Linked DNA regions of Homo sapiens: region 2 is linked to region 1. The links come from fine-mapping of genetic effects on gene expression. Tissue or cell type: whole blood. Region 1 holds a variant in brackets; the other region holds the start of a gene. All regions are shown on one strand. Distances are from middle to middle.

The links. PIP is the estimated chance that this variant, and not a neighbour inherited with it, causes the effect.
Region 2: it holds the start of EPS8L2, and the variant in region 1 is fine-mapped to the expression of EPS8L2 in whole blood (INTERVAL, PIP above 0.99).

The regions. Positions count from the first base shown.
Region 1 is chr11:730,094-738,093 of GRCh38, forward strand. It overlaps LOC105376509 (a long non-coding RNA gene), which reads left to right and starts at 6,431. Exons shown (of 3, transcript XR_930962.3): 1 at 6,431-6,644. RefSeq lists enhancers at 4,559-5,059, 5,060-5,560. The variant G/GA (reference allele first, on the strand shown) is at 4,376.
Region 2 is chr11:701,424-709,423 of GRCh38, forward strand. It overlaps EPS8L2 (EPS8 signaling adaptor L2), which reads left to right and starts at 4,808. Exons shown (of 21, transcript NM_022772.4): 1 at 4,808-4,865; 2 at 7,907-8,000. The coding sequence starts at 7,985. It overlaps TMEM80 (transmembrane protein 80), which reads left to right. Exons shown (of 5, transcript NM_001042463.3): 5 at 1,522-2,706. The coding sequence ends at 1,727. It also overlaps a transcript of DEAF1 not described here. RefSeq lists enhancers at 2,721-3,648, 5,504-6,430, 6,431-7,358 and a silencer at 4,625-4,754.

The DNA of each region.
Region 1 (8,000 bases):
CAGCCCCAGCAGTACTAGACGTCATGAGAGGCAAAACGACCAAGTTCACAGAAGATGCCAGGATATCCATGTGACAAAGGGGAAGAAGAATTTTCTGTACAAAACTTCAAAAGCAGTGGATACCAGGCGCGGCAGCTCACGCCTGTAATCCCAGCACTTTGGAAGGCCGAGGCAGGTGGATCACCTGAGGTCAGGAGTTCGAGACTAGCCTGGCCAACATGGTGAAACCCCATCTCTACTAAAAATACAAAAATTAGCCGGGCATGGTGGCGCGTGCCTGTAATCCCAGCTACTTGGGAGGTTGAGGGAGGAGACTCACTTGAACCCAGGGGGCAGAGGTTGCAGTGAACCAAAATCATGCCACTTCACTCCAGCAAAAGAGCAAAACTCTGTTTCAAAAATAAAATAATGAAAATTTTAAAAAGGGAGTCAATGAGTTTGATTTTGGCAAAATTAAAGACTTGCAGCCGGGCGCAGTAGCTCACACCTGTAATCCCAGCACTTTGGGAGGCCAAGGCAAAAGGATAGCTTGAGCCCAGGGGTTCGAGACCAGCCTGGGCAAATGGCTAGACCCTGTCTCTACAAAAAAAAATTATTAGGCCGGGCACGGTGGCTCATGCCTGTTATCCCAGCACTTTGGGAGGCCAAGGTGGGCAGATCACGAGGTCAGGAGATTGAGACTATCCTGGCTAACACGGCGAAACCTCGTCTCTACTAAAAGTACAAAAAATTAGCTGGGCATGGTGGCGGGCACCTGTAGTCCCAGCTACTGAGGAGGCTGAGGCACGAGAATTGCTTGAACCTGGGAGGCAGAGGTTGCAGTCAGCAGAGATCACGCCACTGCGTGAGCAGAGATCATGCCACTGCACTCCAGCCTGGGCAACAGAGAGAGACTCTGTCTCAAAAAAAAGAAAAGAAAAGAAAAAAAGTTATTAAATTAGCCAGGCGTGCTGGTGAGTGCCTGTGGTCTCACTGCCTGTGCTACTCGGGAGGCTGAGTGGGGAGGATCCCTCGAGCCTGGGAGGCAGAGGTTGCAGTGAGCTGAGATGGCACCACTGCATTCCAGCCTGGGCGACACAGTGAGATCCTGTCTCAAAAAAAAATTTTTTTTTTTTTTAGATAGAGTTTTGCTCTGTCACCCAGGCTGGAGTGCAGTGGCGCAGTCTCGGCTCACTGCAACCCCCGCCTCCCAGGTTCAATTGATTCTCCTACCTCAGCCTCCCAAGTAGCTGAGACTACAGGTGGGTGCTACCACGTCCGGATAATTTTTTGTATTTTTAGTAGAGACGGGGTTTCACCATGTAGTGGTCTCAATCTCCTGACCTCGTGATCAACCTGCCTTGGCCTCCCAAAGTGCTGGGATTACAGGCGTGAGCCACTGCACCCAGCCAAAAAAAAATTTTTTTAATGAAAACATTTTTTTAAAAGACTCGCATTCACTGACGGCCACTTGGAGGGGATGCTGACTGGCAAGCAGAGCAGACACCAAGGACAGTCTCTGGGAGACCTAAGACCCTTTCAGGGCATTGTGAGCTCCAGACGGTGTTTGTTTGTTTGCTTGTTTTTTGAGACAGAGTTTTGCTCTTGTTGCCCAGGCTGGAGTGCAGTGGCGTGATCTCAGCTCACCGCAACCTCCGGCTCCTGGGTCAAGTGATTCTCCTGCCTCAGCCTCCCGAGTAGCTGGGATTACAGGCGCTTGCCACCACGCCTGGCTAGTTTTGTATTTTTAGTAGAGACGGGGTTTCTCCATGTTGGTCAGGCTGATCTTGAACTCCTGACCTCAGGTGATCCGCCCACCTTGGCCTCCCAAAGTGCTGGGATTAAAGGCGTGAGCCACCGTGCCCGGCCCTCTACACTGTTTTTATAGCAAGACTTGAGAAGCAGGCCAGGCACGTGGCTCACACCTGTAATCCCAGTGCTTTGGGAGGCCAAAGCAGGTAGATTGTTTGAGCCCAGGAATTTGAGATTAGCCTGGGCAACATACCGAGACCCTGTCTCTACTAAAAATTTAAAAATTGGTGAGGCGCAGTGGCTCACACCTGTAATCCCAGCACTTTGGGAGGCCGAGGCGGGCGGACCACAAGGTCAGGAGATCGAGACCATCCTGGCTAATACAGTGAAACCCCATCTCTACAAAAAATACAAAAAATTAGCCTGGCCTGGTGGCGGGCGCCTGTAGTCCCAGCTACTCGGGAGGCTGAGGCAGGAGAATGGCGTGAACCCGGGAGGCAGAGCTTGCAGTGAGCCGAGATCACGCCACTGCACTCCAGCCTGGGCAACAGAGTAAGACTCCGTCTCAAAAAGAAATGTAAAAATTAGCCAGGTGTGGTGATGTGCATCTGTAGTCCCAGCTACTTAGGAGGCTGATTCGAGAGAATTGTTTCAGCTCAGGAGTTCAAGGCTGCAATGAGCTGTGATGGTGCCACTGCAACTCCAGCCTGGGTGACAGAGCAAGACGCTGTCTCAAAAAAAAAGGTGCTCTGGGTTGAATTATGTCCTTCAGAAATTCATATTTCAGTCCTTGTCCCAGCAACTCAGACTGTTGCCCTATTTGGGTCACTGCAGATGTAATTAAGATGAGGCCATGCTGGAGTACGGTAGCCCTAATATATCAAAAGGGGAGGCCGGGTGAGGTGGCTCACACCTGTAATCCCAGCACTTTGGGAGGCCAAGGCGGGCAGATCACTTGAGGTCAAGAGTTCGAGACCATCCTGGCCAACATGGTGAAACCCCATCTCTACTAAAAATACAAAAATTAGCCGGGCGTGGTGGCGGGCACCTGTAATCCCAGCTACTCAGGAGGCTTGAGACAGGAGAATCGCTTGAACCTGGGAGGTGGAGGTTGCAGTGAGCCAAGATCCCACCACTGCACTCCAGCCTGGGCAAAAAAAAATTAAAACAACAGATAAAAAGGGGAAACGTGGACACAGACACGATCGGGGTGATCACCGGAGGAGGGGGAGGTTTCTACATGCTAAGGAGCAACACGGAGCGGCAGCTCCCACAGAAGCCTGGAGAGGCCCAGAGCAGAGATTTCCACACAGCCTCGAAGGAACCAGCCCTGGCCACGCCTGCATCTCAGACTCCAGCCTCTAGAACCAAGAGAGGAGACGCGTCTGTTGTTCACACCACCCAGTGTGCGGCGTTTGCCATGGCAGCCCCGTGAAACACAGAAGCCTGCCTTCTCAACCGCACTCACCTTTGCTCGAATATGAGCAGCCCCCATTCTTCCCCGACACACACAGTCAAATCAGCAAACGTCACTGATTTGATGCAGTCTCACCTGGAAGCGTAAGCATCCGGCGTCCCGGGCGCCTGCTGCCTAGGTGTTGGGGCTGCCCGGGGAAGAGCTGGGAGCCATGTCCCAGCCGTGACTGACCTGGCCAGCTTCCCCAGGTTACTTGAAAGAACCTCTTGTGTCGAGACGTGGGTAGTCATTGTCTCCAAAATGAACAAAGTGAAAACAACGGACCCTCTTCGCTGCCGTGATAAATCTGCATTTTCCAGTGGACATTTGAGTTTTGGAAACTGCCATCATAGGCAAGGCTGCTCCACCACCTGAAGCTCTTTTTTTTTTTTTTTTTTGAGACCGAGTCTCACTCTGTCACCCAGGCTGGAGTGCAGTGGCCCGACCTTGTAGCTGGGACCTCATGATCTGCCTGCCTCGGCCTCCCAAAGTGCTGGGATTACAGGCGTGAACCACCGTGCCTGGCCCTGAAGCTCCTTCTGATAGGCTCAGTTAGGGAGCGTGCATGTTCCTTATTGAAATTGGAGGGGTCAGCACTTGGGGGTCTGGGAAACCCCACGACCAAGGCGGGACATTCCAGCATCACTCATGGGCCTAAGAGCCAGTCACAGAAGGTCCACAATGATCCAGAAAGGCTATCAGGGTGCCCTTCCCTGTTCCGACTACAAATCTGGATGAAGCCAGATTTTCCTCACATACTTCTCCTAGAACAATGATTCCCAGAGGCCTAGGCAGGCCCCGGGAGGAGGACCCCTGGGCCTAGGAAACCGGCATGATGGAGATTTTGCAAACGTGGATACCAGTGCCACTCTGCTCACTAGATTTTTTGTTTAACAAAGATGTACTGGGCCAGGTGCAGTGGCTCACACCTGCAATCCTAGCACTTTGGGAGGCTGAGGCAGATGCATTATTTGAGCTCAGGAGTTTGAAACCAGCCTGGGCAACATGGTGAAAACCCGTCTCTACTAAAATACAAAAATTATCCAGGAGTGGTGGCAGGCACCTGCAATACCAGCTACCTGGGAAGCTGAGGCAGGAGAATCTCTTGAACCCGAGGTGTGGAGGTTGCAGTGAGCCAAGACTGCGGCACTGCATTCCAGCCTTGGTGACAGAGCGAGACTCTGTCTA[G/GA]AAAAAAAAAAAACAGACACACACAAAAATTAGCTGGGCACGGTAGCACGTGCCTGTAGTCTCAGCTACTTGGGAGACTGAGGCAGGAGGATCACTTGAGTGCAGGAGATGGAGGTTGCTGTGATCACACCACTGCACTACAGCCTAGGCAACCCAGCCAGACCCTGTCTCAAAAAAATGTATAACTATTTATAGAAGTGTGCAAGCGTGAAAGCGCTGGCTCCCAGGACAGCCACGAAGCCACGGGTCGTTGACACAGCCGAGTGGGCGCCATTGCCGGAGCGGGAACCCGCCTGAGGGTCTTCACGGGGTCTGAGTGGGCGCCATTGCCGGAGCCGGAACCCGCCTGAGGGTCTTCACGGGGTCTGAGTGGGCGCCATTGCCGGAGCGGGAACCCGCCTGAGGGTCTTCACGGGGTCTGAGTGGGCGCCATTGCCGGAGCCGGAACCCGCCTGAGGGTCTTCACGGGGTCTGAGTGGGCGCCATTGCCGGATCCGGAACCCCGCCTGAGGGTCGTCACGGGGTCTGAGTGGGCGCCATTGCCGGATCCGGAACCCGCCTGAGGGTCTTCGCGGGGTCTGAGTGGGCGCCATTGCCGGATCCGGAACCCCGCCTGAGGGTCTTCGCGGGGTCTGAGTGGGCGCCATTGCCGGATCCGGAACCCCGCCTGAGGGTCTTCACGGGGTCTGAGTGGGCGCCATTGCCGGAGCGGGAACCCGCCTGAGGGTCTTCACGGGGTCTGAGTGGGCGCCATTGCCGGAGCCGGAACCCGCCTGAGGGTCTTCGCGGGGTCTGAGTGGGCGCCATTGCCGGAGCGGGAATCCCACCTGAGGGTCTTCACGGGGTCTGAGAGGGCGCCATTGCCGGAGCCGGAACCCGCCTGAGGGTCGTCACGGGGTCTGAGTGGGCGCCATTGCCGGATCCGGAACCCCGCCTGAGGGTCTTCACGGGGTCTGAGTGGGCGCCATTGCCGGATCCGGAACCCCGCCTGAGGGTCTTCACGGGGTCTGAGTGGGCGCCATTGCCGGATCCGGAACCCGCCTGAGGGTCTTCGCGGGGTCTGAGTGGGCGGCATTGCCGGATCCGGAACCCCGCCTGAGGGTCTTCGCGGGGTCTGAGTGGGCGCCATTGCCGGATCCGGAACCCCGCCTGAGGGTCTTCACGGGGTCTGAGTGGGCGCCATTGCCGGAGCGGGAACCCGCCTGAGGGTCTTCACGGGGTCTGAGTGGGCGCCATTGCCGGAGCCGGAACCCGCCTGAGGGTCTTCGCGGGGTCTGAGTGGGCGCCATTGCCGGAGCGGGAATCCCACCTGAGGGTCTTCACGGGGTCTGAGAGGGCGCCATTGCCGGAGCCGGAACCCGCCTGAGGGTCGTCACGGGGTCTGAGTGGGCGCCATTGCTGGATCCGGAACCCCTCCTGAGGGTCTTCACGGGGTCTGAGTGGGCGCCATTGCCGGATCCGGAACCCGCCTGAGGGTCTTCACGGGGTCTGAGTGGGCGCCATTGCCGGATCCGGAACCCCGCCTGAGGGTCTTCGCGGGGTCTGAGTGGGCGCCATTGCCGGAGCGGGAACCCGCCTGAGGGTCTTCACGGGGTCTGAGTGGGCGCCATTGCCGGATCCGGAACCCCTCCTGAGGGTCTTCACGGGGTCTGAGTGGGCGCCATTGCCGGATCCGGAACCCGCCTGAGGGTCTTCACGGGGTCTGAGTGGGCGCCATTGCCGGATCCGGAACCCCGCCTGAGGGTCTTCGCGGGGTCTGAGTGGGCGCCATTGCCGGATCCGGAACCCGCCTGAGGGTCTTCACGGGGTCTGAGTGGGCGCCATTGCCGGATCCGGAACCCCGCCTGAGGGTCTTCACAGCATCTGAGTGGGCGCCATTGCCGGAGCCGGAACCCGCCTGAGGGTCTTCGCGGGGTCTGAGTGGGCGCCATTGCCGGAGCGGGAATCCCGCCTGAGGGTCTTCACGGGGTCTGAGTGGGCGCCATTGCCGGAGCGGGAATCCCGCCTGAGGGTCTTCACGGGGTCTGAGGGGAAAGCAGGGCCGGGGTGGGCGTGTGGAAGGTTTTGGGGTGTGGCTTCAGGTGAGTCTTCAGGAGGCTTCGTTAGGATTGGGCATGTTTGGGACGGAAGTGGTTCGGGACTGATGGACATAAGAAGGGTTTGGAGTGAGTCTGGAGACTGAGCCCAGCTGTGCTGTCCGCTCACAGGTCCTAGGCAACGACTGTCAGGAAGTTCCCAAAATAAGTCACTCACAACCTCATCGTCCTGGGTAAGTTTCCTGATATGTTCCACAGCTCAATGGTCCATCATTGTTTTTGGTTTTGTTTTGTTTTGTTTTGTTTTGTTTTGTTTTTGAGGCGGAGTCTCGCTCTGTCGCCCAGGCTGGAGTGCAGTGGCGCGATCTCGGCTCACTGCAAGCTCCGCCTCCCGGGTTCACGCCATTCTCCTGCCTCGGCCTCCCGAGTAGCTGGGACTGCAGGCGCCCGCCACCACGCCCGGCTGATTTTTTTTTTTGTATTTTTAGTAGAGACGGGGTTTTACTGTGTTAGCCAGGATGGTCTCGATCTCCTGACCTTGTGATCTGCCCGCCTCGGCCTCCCAAAGTGCTGGGATTACAGGCGGGAGCCACCGCGCCCAGCCTGTTGTGTTTTGTTTTTGAGACAGCGTCTCGCTCTGTTGCCCAGGCTGGAGTGCAGTGGGGCAATTGGGGTTCACTGCAGCCTCGACCTCCTGGGTTCAAGGGATCTTCCCAGTCTCCACCTCCCAAAGTGCTGGGATTACAGGCGCGAGTCACTGCACCCGGCTCCATCTTTTTTTCCCCCCAAAACTGGCTGTCAAGAACAAGGAAAATTAAAAAAAAAAAAAAACACAAGGAAAATTTACCATCTTAACCATTTTCAATTGAACAGTTCAGTGGCATTGAGAAAGTGGAAAAACTCAAACCGTGTTCCCTCTGGTCTCACTGCACAGTAATAATCAGCACAGAGAACTTCTGTTTCTCCCGCACACCAAGCAAGCAGCCAGCTTTGCAACAGACACAGAGGAGTTCTGTTTCTCCCCGCACACCCAGCAAGCGGCCAGCTCCGTTTTTCCTGCACACGGAGCAGGCAGTCAGCTGTGTCTCCCGCACACCGAGCAAGCCCTCAGCTTTGCCACAGACACCGGCTGGGTGTTCTCCCTTTCAGTTCGCTTCTGAGGCTGTCTACCTGCAGTTAGCCCCAGATCCACAGGCTGGGGGCTCAGTCCCACAAGACTGCCCCACACTTCCCACCAGTCGTGAGTCCAGGCCTCTGGAAGGTGTCACCAAATGGCATTAAATTGGGGTTCCCACCACCGCCCTCTTTGGGCTTGATTAATTTGCTAGAGAGGCTCACAGAACTCAGGGAAACACTTTTACCGATTTATCACAAAGAATATTTAAAAGCATAGAAAGACAGCCCGATGAAGAAACGCACAAGGTGGGGTCTGGAAGGGCCCCGAGAGCAGGAGCTTCCGTCGCCGTGGAGTTGGGGTGCTCCACCCTCCCTGCACATAGAGGAGTTCCTGTTCACCTTCCTGTCGGCCCCATGTGTTCAGTTATCTGGACGTTCCCCAAACCCTGTCCTCCTGGGTCTTTTGTGGAGAC
Region 2 (8,000 bases), 29 kb before region 1:
TTTTTGAGACAGAGTCTCGCTCTGTCGCCCAGGCTGGAGTGCAGTGGCGTGAACTTGGCTCACTGCAAGCTCCGCCTCCCGGGTTCACGCCAGTCTCCTGTCTCAGCCTCCCGAGTAACTGGGACTACAGGTGCCCGCCACCACGCCCGGCTCATTTTTGTATTTTTAGTAGAGATGGGGTTTCACCATGTTAGCCAGGATGGTTTCCATCTCCTGACCTCCTGATCCGCCCACCTCGGCCTCCCAAAGTGCTGGGATTACAGGCGTGAGCCACCGCGCCCGGCCGGAGACAGGGTTTCGCTATGTTACCCTGGTTGGTCTTGAACTCTTGGGCTCAAGCAATCTGCCCACCTTGGCCTCCCAAAGTGCCTGGCCTCACTCCCCTTTTTTTAACCACACAATTTGTTCAAGGGTATGTTCTTGTACAAGATTCAAGGGGTGCAGAAGTAAAACATGGAAATTCGCCCTCCCCAGAGCTCACCTCTGTGGCCAGCGGGGTGCAGACTTCCAGCCCTCTGCGTGCTCATGGTCGTAACATGTGCACCTAAACACACGTGTTTGTGAAACATTGTCCTGCCGTGGGGAACGCAATGGGCACTTCCAGGGCGCTGTGCCCCTGCCAGGCTGGAATCTTGGGCCCCTCTTGTTCACATACAGATACACCCCTGATGCCTGATGTCCAGTGAGGAACCAAGGCTGCGGGGAAGGGTGGCCCCCACCCTTCCTCTTGTTATCAGGCCTCAGACACACTAGGAGGATGGAGGCGAGTTCTCTCAGCTGCCCATCCCACTGAGGGGTGCCCGGCCGTCAGTGTCTTGTCTGCACTTACGTCCCAGAACCTCTAGAGCTTGCCCCCCAGGGCGGGCACTGCTGGGAGGGTGCGAGCACCGCTGCGGCACAGAGGCCCGGTTCTTGGCTGATCTTCTGGGGCCTGGGCCTGCCCTGAGGTGGTGGGGACAGGGTGTGGCCTGGCCCTGCTGGGGGCTGCTAGGCCAACGGGACCCTCCCCAAGCGCGCCGCACACTGCAGGGTCTCCAGGCACCTGGGCTCAGCTAGTGACTGACCCATTTGTTTGCTAAATACGCAGTTTTGTTTTTAATACATACTCGTGAAATTTTCCAGAACTGGCCTTGGACCAGAGAAAAATACTTTGGGAATTTTTCAAAAAAATCCCTTCAGTTCCACTTGGAATTAGGAAAACGTGGCAGATGCACTTGAATCATTTTAGAAACCAAATTCACCCCCGCCCACACAGCCGACCCAGAAGACCCAGAGACAGATCAAACCATGCTGTTGCAGGGGCACCTCCCCCAGGAGGGGCTCACGCCTGTGTTGCCCATGCTCTCTGGCTCTCCTGAGTTCTGGGTGGCCATGGAGGCTGTTTCCCTGGAATTCCCCAGGCCCCGGAGGAACGTAGGGCAAGGAGCTGCTCTGGTCCCAGCAGCCCTCCAGGCACCTGTGGGCGGTGGGCTCCAGGGAGCGCCTCGCACCACCTTCCCTCCCCTTTGCTCTGTTCTCCAGGCACCAGGGGCAACCTGACAGAGGCTGAGAGGCCGCTGGCCGCCAGCCTGGCCCTCACGGCTGGCACCGCCCTCCTCTCTGCCCACTTCCTGCTTTGGCAGGCCCTAGTGTTGTGGGCGGACTGGGCCCTCAGCGCCACGCTCCTGGCCCTTCACGGCCTGGAGGCCGTCCTGCAGGTGGTTGCCATCGCGGCCTTCACCAGGTAGCTACGGACACCCGGGATACCCCACACTGGGGCCCTCCTCCTGGGCCTGACCAGTCCCCCAGCTGTCACCTCCCCATTCCTGGACAGGAAGGGCACTTTTCCTAGTGACTGGCCATAGATGGTTTTGGATGGTTCCATCTGTTCTGGCAGGAGTGGGAGCAGGAGCCAGGGCAGAACAAACTGCTGGAGGCCCTGGTGTTGGGAACAGCTGCGGGGAGGGTAGGGACCAGACAGAACTGCCTTCAAGATGAGTCCCAGGAGCGCACACTCAGCCCTGTCAGTGGGGTCTGGCTTTAGCAGCCAGGCCTCCACAGACCCCCATGGGCCCCCAGGGCCGAGAGGGAGGACAGAGCCCTTCAGAACAGAGGCCTCATCTCACTGCATCCCCCATCACCCCCTAGTTCCCCAATGGTCCTAATTTGTGTTCTGAGATCCCAGTTTACTCCGTGGCCAGGCCCCACCTGTGTTTCCAAGTCGGGCTGGAGACGCAGGATGGGGTAGGCCTTGTGCTCTGAGCAACCCCAGCTCTGCCTCACAGGCAGGCAGGCCCGGTGCAAGAGTGGACTCTGGGTTCCTAAAGCAATAAATGCAAACAAGCCAACAGCTCTGCTGCCTAGCAATTTCCATCTTAGCCACACTTCTCCCTTCAGGGGCTTCGGAGGAGAGGTCAGGGCTAAGGCCGGGGATGAGACTGCAGGAGAGAGAGCAGCGGAGGGCCACATTCGGAGCCTCCGTCCACTCCAGTTTTATCAGCTTTTGCCTTTTGCACGGAGTGCTAAACAAATTCTAGCTCTGTGTTTTTTTCCCATTCCCAGATTTACTATCAGTTCTCCTTAAAAAGTATCTAAGCTGTTACAGTAGCTTTCCCTTCACTTGATTCTATTGTGTGTTTTCTATGTTTGGAATAATTACACCCAAATATCTAGATATTTTCTCTTCACCGCATTTTGTAAATAAAGAGATGTGTATGCCTCCCTGAATTCTCCTAATTATGGCCACCTCCCCCACCCCATCTCCAGTTCTCCTGCCCTGCAAGAGAGCACACCCCACTTGCCAGCTGGTCAGTTCCTGGCTGGCCTCGCCCTCGGGCCCTGGCTGCCGGGCGCCTTCCGCTCGGTGGACTCCTGAGGGCAGGAGGCTGCGGGACTGTCCTGGGCCTCCACTGGGGCTCCCTCGGCTGGGGTGGCTGTGGCTGTGGCACCTGGACAGTCTTTCCTGCCTGTCTTCGTGGAAGCGGTGGGAGCACCCAGTTGTCCTGGGCCGACTTCCTTTGACCTGTCTGTGGCCCCCAGTGGCCACGGTGAGCTGCAGGACAGCCCTGAGGACCCACTTCACACACCAGCGCCTGAGCGCCTCGGGCCACCTCCCTCACCAGCGCCTGCACTCGCAGAAGACCAGCTGGGCACACCTGCCATCTGGAGGACCCAGCCCACAAACCATGCAGACCAGGGAAGGACCCCCTCCCTGAAGCTGGAGACCTGTTGCCTTCATGGTTAATGGATCCTGATACCTCCAGTCTCAGCGAGCACACAAAGGCAGTGGTCACCTGTTCCACAGGGAACGCCATGGCTCCAGGTGACCCGGAGTGGATGGGGCCCGAGAGGCCAGCCTGGACTGTCTCCTGAGGGCAGGCTCCGCACTCAAAATCGTGTTGACAGGCACCCGTTTAGGAGTGGAGAGGGACCCCACCCCCCAGCTGTCCTCTCCAGCGCCTGTTTCCCACTTGGCCACTCCCAGCTCTGCCTCCAGGAAGGGTGAGGGCACGGGTGCACCGAGGGGTTGGCGTGTGTGACCCTGAGCTCTGGGTCAGGGCAAGCTCATGCATGGAGCAGGATCACGGCAGGTTCCTGGAGATCAAACGGCAAAGGCTGTAAACCAGGAAGCCAGGTCTTGCCTGGGCTCAGGGGCAGGCACTGGGCCCGAAGGAGGAGGGCCACTTCCTGCCAGCCCTCCACCGAGCTCACCTATGGCGCCTCCCCAGGAAGTGCTCCGGCCAGCCCAGGGTAAACACGCTAGCCCTGCCCCTCTGGGACCATAGCCCGGGGACCCAGACTCTTGGCCACGCTCATTCCCACCCCTACCCAGGACCGGCAGCCGGAGCCTTGGGTCCCTGCATGGGCCTGGGGCGCCCTGTGCCCCTTCACCTCGTCCTCGTCCAGTTGACTGCTGTGGCAGCCGGTGCTACCCGCTGTGTCCACTGCACCCTGGCCCTGTTCTGAGCGGTCACAGCAGCTGGGGAGAAGGGCCATCCTGGAAGCCGGGCAGATGAGGACGGAACCAGACAGTCCCACTGTGGTGGGCAGAGGTGGGGCCTGGGCCTGACCACGGGGCAGTGCAAGGAGAGAGGCATCCTGAGAGGGCCTGAGGTGTCCCCACCTCCCCTGACACCCCATCCCTCAGTGCCCAGGCTGGGCAGAAAGGGGGGCCTGGAGGAGCAGCTGCACTGTGAACTCAGGGCTCCAGGCCTGGGGTGGGCATGGCTGGGTCCTGCCTGACACCCACCCACTCACCGAAGCCTCTGCCCCTGGGCCTGCGGTGGGCCCGGTAAGGGAAGTGACTCTGCCCCATGCCTGGGGCACCTGAGGGGTGCACCTGGCCCGGCGGAGGCTCTGACCTCCCCAGGGCTGGAGCCCTCCCCAGCAATGCGCCAGCGCTGCCCCCGAAGTCCCATTGGCAGCGTTCCCCCGTCCCCCGGCCTGCTGGGGCGCAGCTAGGCCCTGCCCAAGGAAGAGCTCGAGGCCTCGCCCTGCTCATCCCGCGGAGGCGGCCCTGCGCCCCGCCTGTCCCCAGCGCCCCAGCTCTAGGGGCTAGGCCCGCGGAGGGGCACACCAGGCGGGTGTTGGGGAGGACGCAGAGGGCTGGGGCTGGAGCCCAGGCGGGGCAGGGGGCGGGGCGGAGCTGGGTCCGAGGCCGGCGGGGGCGCCTCCATCCCACGCCCTCCTCCCCCGCGCGCCCGCCCGCTCTCGGGTGACTCCGCAACCTGTCGCTCAGGTTCCTCCTCTCCCGGCCCCGCCCCGGCCCGGCCCCGCCGAGCGTCCCACCCGCCCGCGGGAGACCTGGCGCCCCGGCCGAGGCGCGAACAGACGGACGCACCGGCGAGCGCCGAGGGGACAGGCCGAGCGCGGGGCGCCGGAGGCAGGTGAGCGCTGCGGACACGGGGGAGCGCGCCCGCCCGGGCCTCAGTTTACCCGGTGGCGATGGGACGCGGGGCTTCTGGTTCAGGACACCGGGACGAACGCGGCGTCGCAGGGCGCGGGGCACTTGGAGGGCGGCCGGGCCGAGGGCGCGGGGCAAGGGGCTGGGGGCCTGGTCGAGTCCCCACCTCTCCTGGACGGGTCCTGCTGCAGCCCGGCCTGCCCCCGTCGGTCCTGGGCGGCGGCCGGCGAGCAAGGATATTTTTAAGCCAGCGATGGGTGACTCACCTGCCCCGTCCTGCCCACTCCCAGCTCTGGGGCTTGGTGGGGGCAATCCCTGCGTCCGGAGAGCGCTGGTGGTAGGGAGGCTTCTCCCGGTTCTGTGAGCAGCAGGACCCTCCCGAGGGCCTGACCGTGGAGGTAGCACTGCACACCCACTCCCTGTGGGCCGGAGCCAGGAGGCACTTCCTGGGTGTCGGAGCCCAGAAGGAAACCAGTGGCCGGGAAGCACCAGCTGGGTCAGTCTCCAGGTCAGGGTTGGGGGTGGGAGTTTCAGGGAGGAGGGGAGGCTGGGACAGGGGCTGCAGAGGCCCTGCCAGGAGAGGCAGGAGGGTGGGCTGGCAGGAGCCTGTGGGCACGCGAACTTCAGCCATCCTAGATTCCTGGTCCCTGCGTCCAGCTGCCTGGCGTTGCCCCTTGCTGCGGGGTGTCCCTGGTGGCAGGGGAGGGGGAGGCAGGGCCGGGCATGCCCGGACCTCTGCCCCCACCCACCCCGTGCTCAGTCCTGGGTCGGCTGTGCTGGGAGGCAGGCCCAGCTGGCGGCGGCCCCTCCCCTCGCGGCCCCTCCTCCCCTCGCGGCCCCTCCTGGGTCCCAGCCTCTCCCGGGCCTGCTTAGCACCCAGGCCTTGTTGGCATAGCTCTCCCACCGGGCCTTCTCCGCCTGCCTCGGTCTCCTTTCCCACCCTCAGCTTCCCCAGCTTATCCCTTCCTCCCTCAAGCCATAGCTTCCAAACAAGGACAGGGCCAGGGCCTGAGGGGCCTCCCCATTCCAGGGCCCCACCCAGCGCCTATGAGGGCAGCCTGGAGCCCCTGTGACTCAGCTGACCCCTCCCCAAGGTCACTCAGCATGTGGAGCTGGAACTTGAACTTGGAGCCCGTCCCTCTACCCTCCTGCCCTGCTGGGACCTCCTCCCCTCCACAGCCCGACTGACCGGGCACCCCGCTCTGCCTCACTTCACACCGGGAAAATGACCACAGTACAAAGTGCAGCCTGGGCCTCCAGGGCTTCGTCCCCACCACCAGTGGGCCAAAGAAGCCTCCCCAGGGGGGCGGGGCTCCCACAGGGCAGGAGGCAGCCCCATACCCATGTGCTTCAGACCCAGACACCACACCTGGACCCACCCCACTGCTGCCCGGCCCTGCCTGGGCCTGAGGTCCCCGATGCCCTGCAGGCAACCGAAGGCCAGGAACCTGGCCTTCCCCAGGGGGGTCGCGTGTCACAGCCCTCCATGTTTGCGTGCCCCCAGGCCTGAGTCTGCAAGGGTGCGTTGGTGTCTCGCCCAGGTGTGTGCCTGGACACACGTGCCTGGCGCCCTTGGTGGAGCCCGCCAGGAATCCCATTAAGCAAACACTCAGGCTCGCCACTGAGCCCGTGAACATTCCAGACATTCTCCACGGATAGATGGATGGAGGAAGTGGCCATACCCCCTGGTGCACCCAGCCCCTCATGTCAGCGGCAGTGCCCCCGGGCCTCCCAGACCCTCCCACTAGGCCAGACCTGGTCAAACCAGAAAGTCCCGGGTGCTCCGAGCCACTCCCTTGACCCTCCATACCAACAGCAGTGGCTGGTGACCCCCACCGTGGCAGACCCAAACTCTGAAGCCACAGGGGACAGCCCTGCAGCCCTGGCAGGAGGCAGATGGTGTGGACCTGTGGGGAGCTGATCACAGAGCCACAGAACAGCCAGGTCCCCACAGGGCATAGTCCCCTTGGGACAAGTCAGCCTGGTTCAGGGCCATCAGGCTCTGTCCATCCCCCCGGGAAGCCCCTAGGGTCCAGCCCAAATCAGACCCACCTGTCTGCCCTGGCGGCTGGGCCTTAGTTTCCCCAAAATGCTCGGGGAAGAGGTCAGCACTAGGAGCCCAGAGACAGGCTCTGAGGATTCTGCCCCTGGGGGAGGCCAGAGGCACCTGCCCCATAGCCACCCTACCTCGTTGGAGGGGCAGTGATACTGTGTGTTGGGGCCACTGGACTGGCTCCCAGTCTCAGCCCCCACCACACCTGCCCTCCAGTCCCTCCCCTAGGCTTGGCTGCTGCCAGGGGTTCTGCGCTGGCCACCTGGCCGCATCCCTGCCCTCGAGGTGAGGAAACACTGCACCCCGGGGACCCCAGGGTTTCCTGCCCGCACAGCCTCTTCCCTGCCAGGTCTCCCAGGCCCAGGAAAGAGCCAAGGGCCAGCCTCTTTGCTGGGGCCTGGACAGAGGTGGCATGTGTGGGTGGCAAGTCCACATGTGGGTGCAGGAGCCCCTTGGGGTGCAGGCCTGGGGTGGGGCAGGAGTGGCGGCTAGAGCCGGGCTCCCTCTGGACTTCAGGACCTACCCCAACTCCAGCCTCACCTCTCCTGCCATCCTGCAGCTCCCACCCGCCCTCCCCCAACCCCCACCGCACCCCCCTCCCCCCACACTCCCACCTCATCCCCCTCCCCTTACCCATCCCACCCCCCTCCCCACAGCACCAGGGCCTTAAACTCCATGCTGCCCAGCTTGGAAGGCGCCTTCTGCCCCCAGGGCCCTTGTCAGAGCCTCCCAGTCAGCCTCTGGGGGGTCCCTGTGGAGCACCTAGGGTCTGAGGCATGACGAGGCTGATCGACTGTCAACTGGGACGTGGGGCCAACTGGGACGTGGGGCCAACTGGGATGTCGGGCAGGGGCTCTGCCCCCCAAGGGACCCCCACCCAGGCCAGGCCAGTCAGGGATCTGGCCCAGGGAAGGAGGGGAGGAACCAGCCAGGCCGGAGGAAGTGTCAGCGCAGCCCTTCTGTCCACCCAGGTGTGGGACAGGCACTGGCCTCAGACCGGGGCCACACTGAGGTCTGCCCTTCTCCCGCTGGCCGCCACCCAAGACACCATGAGCCAGTCCGGGG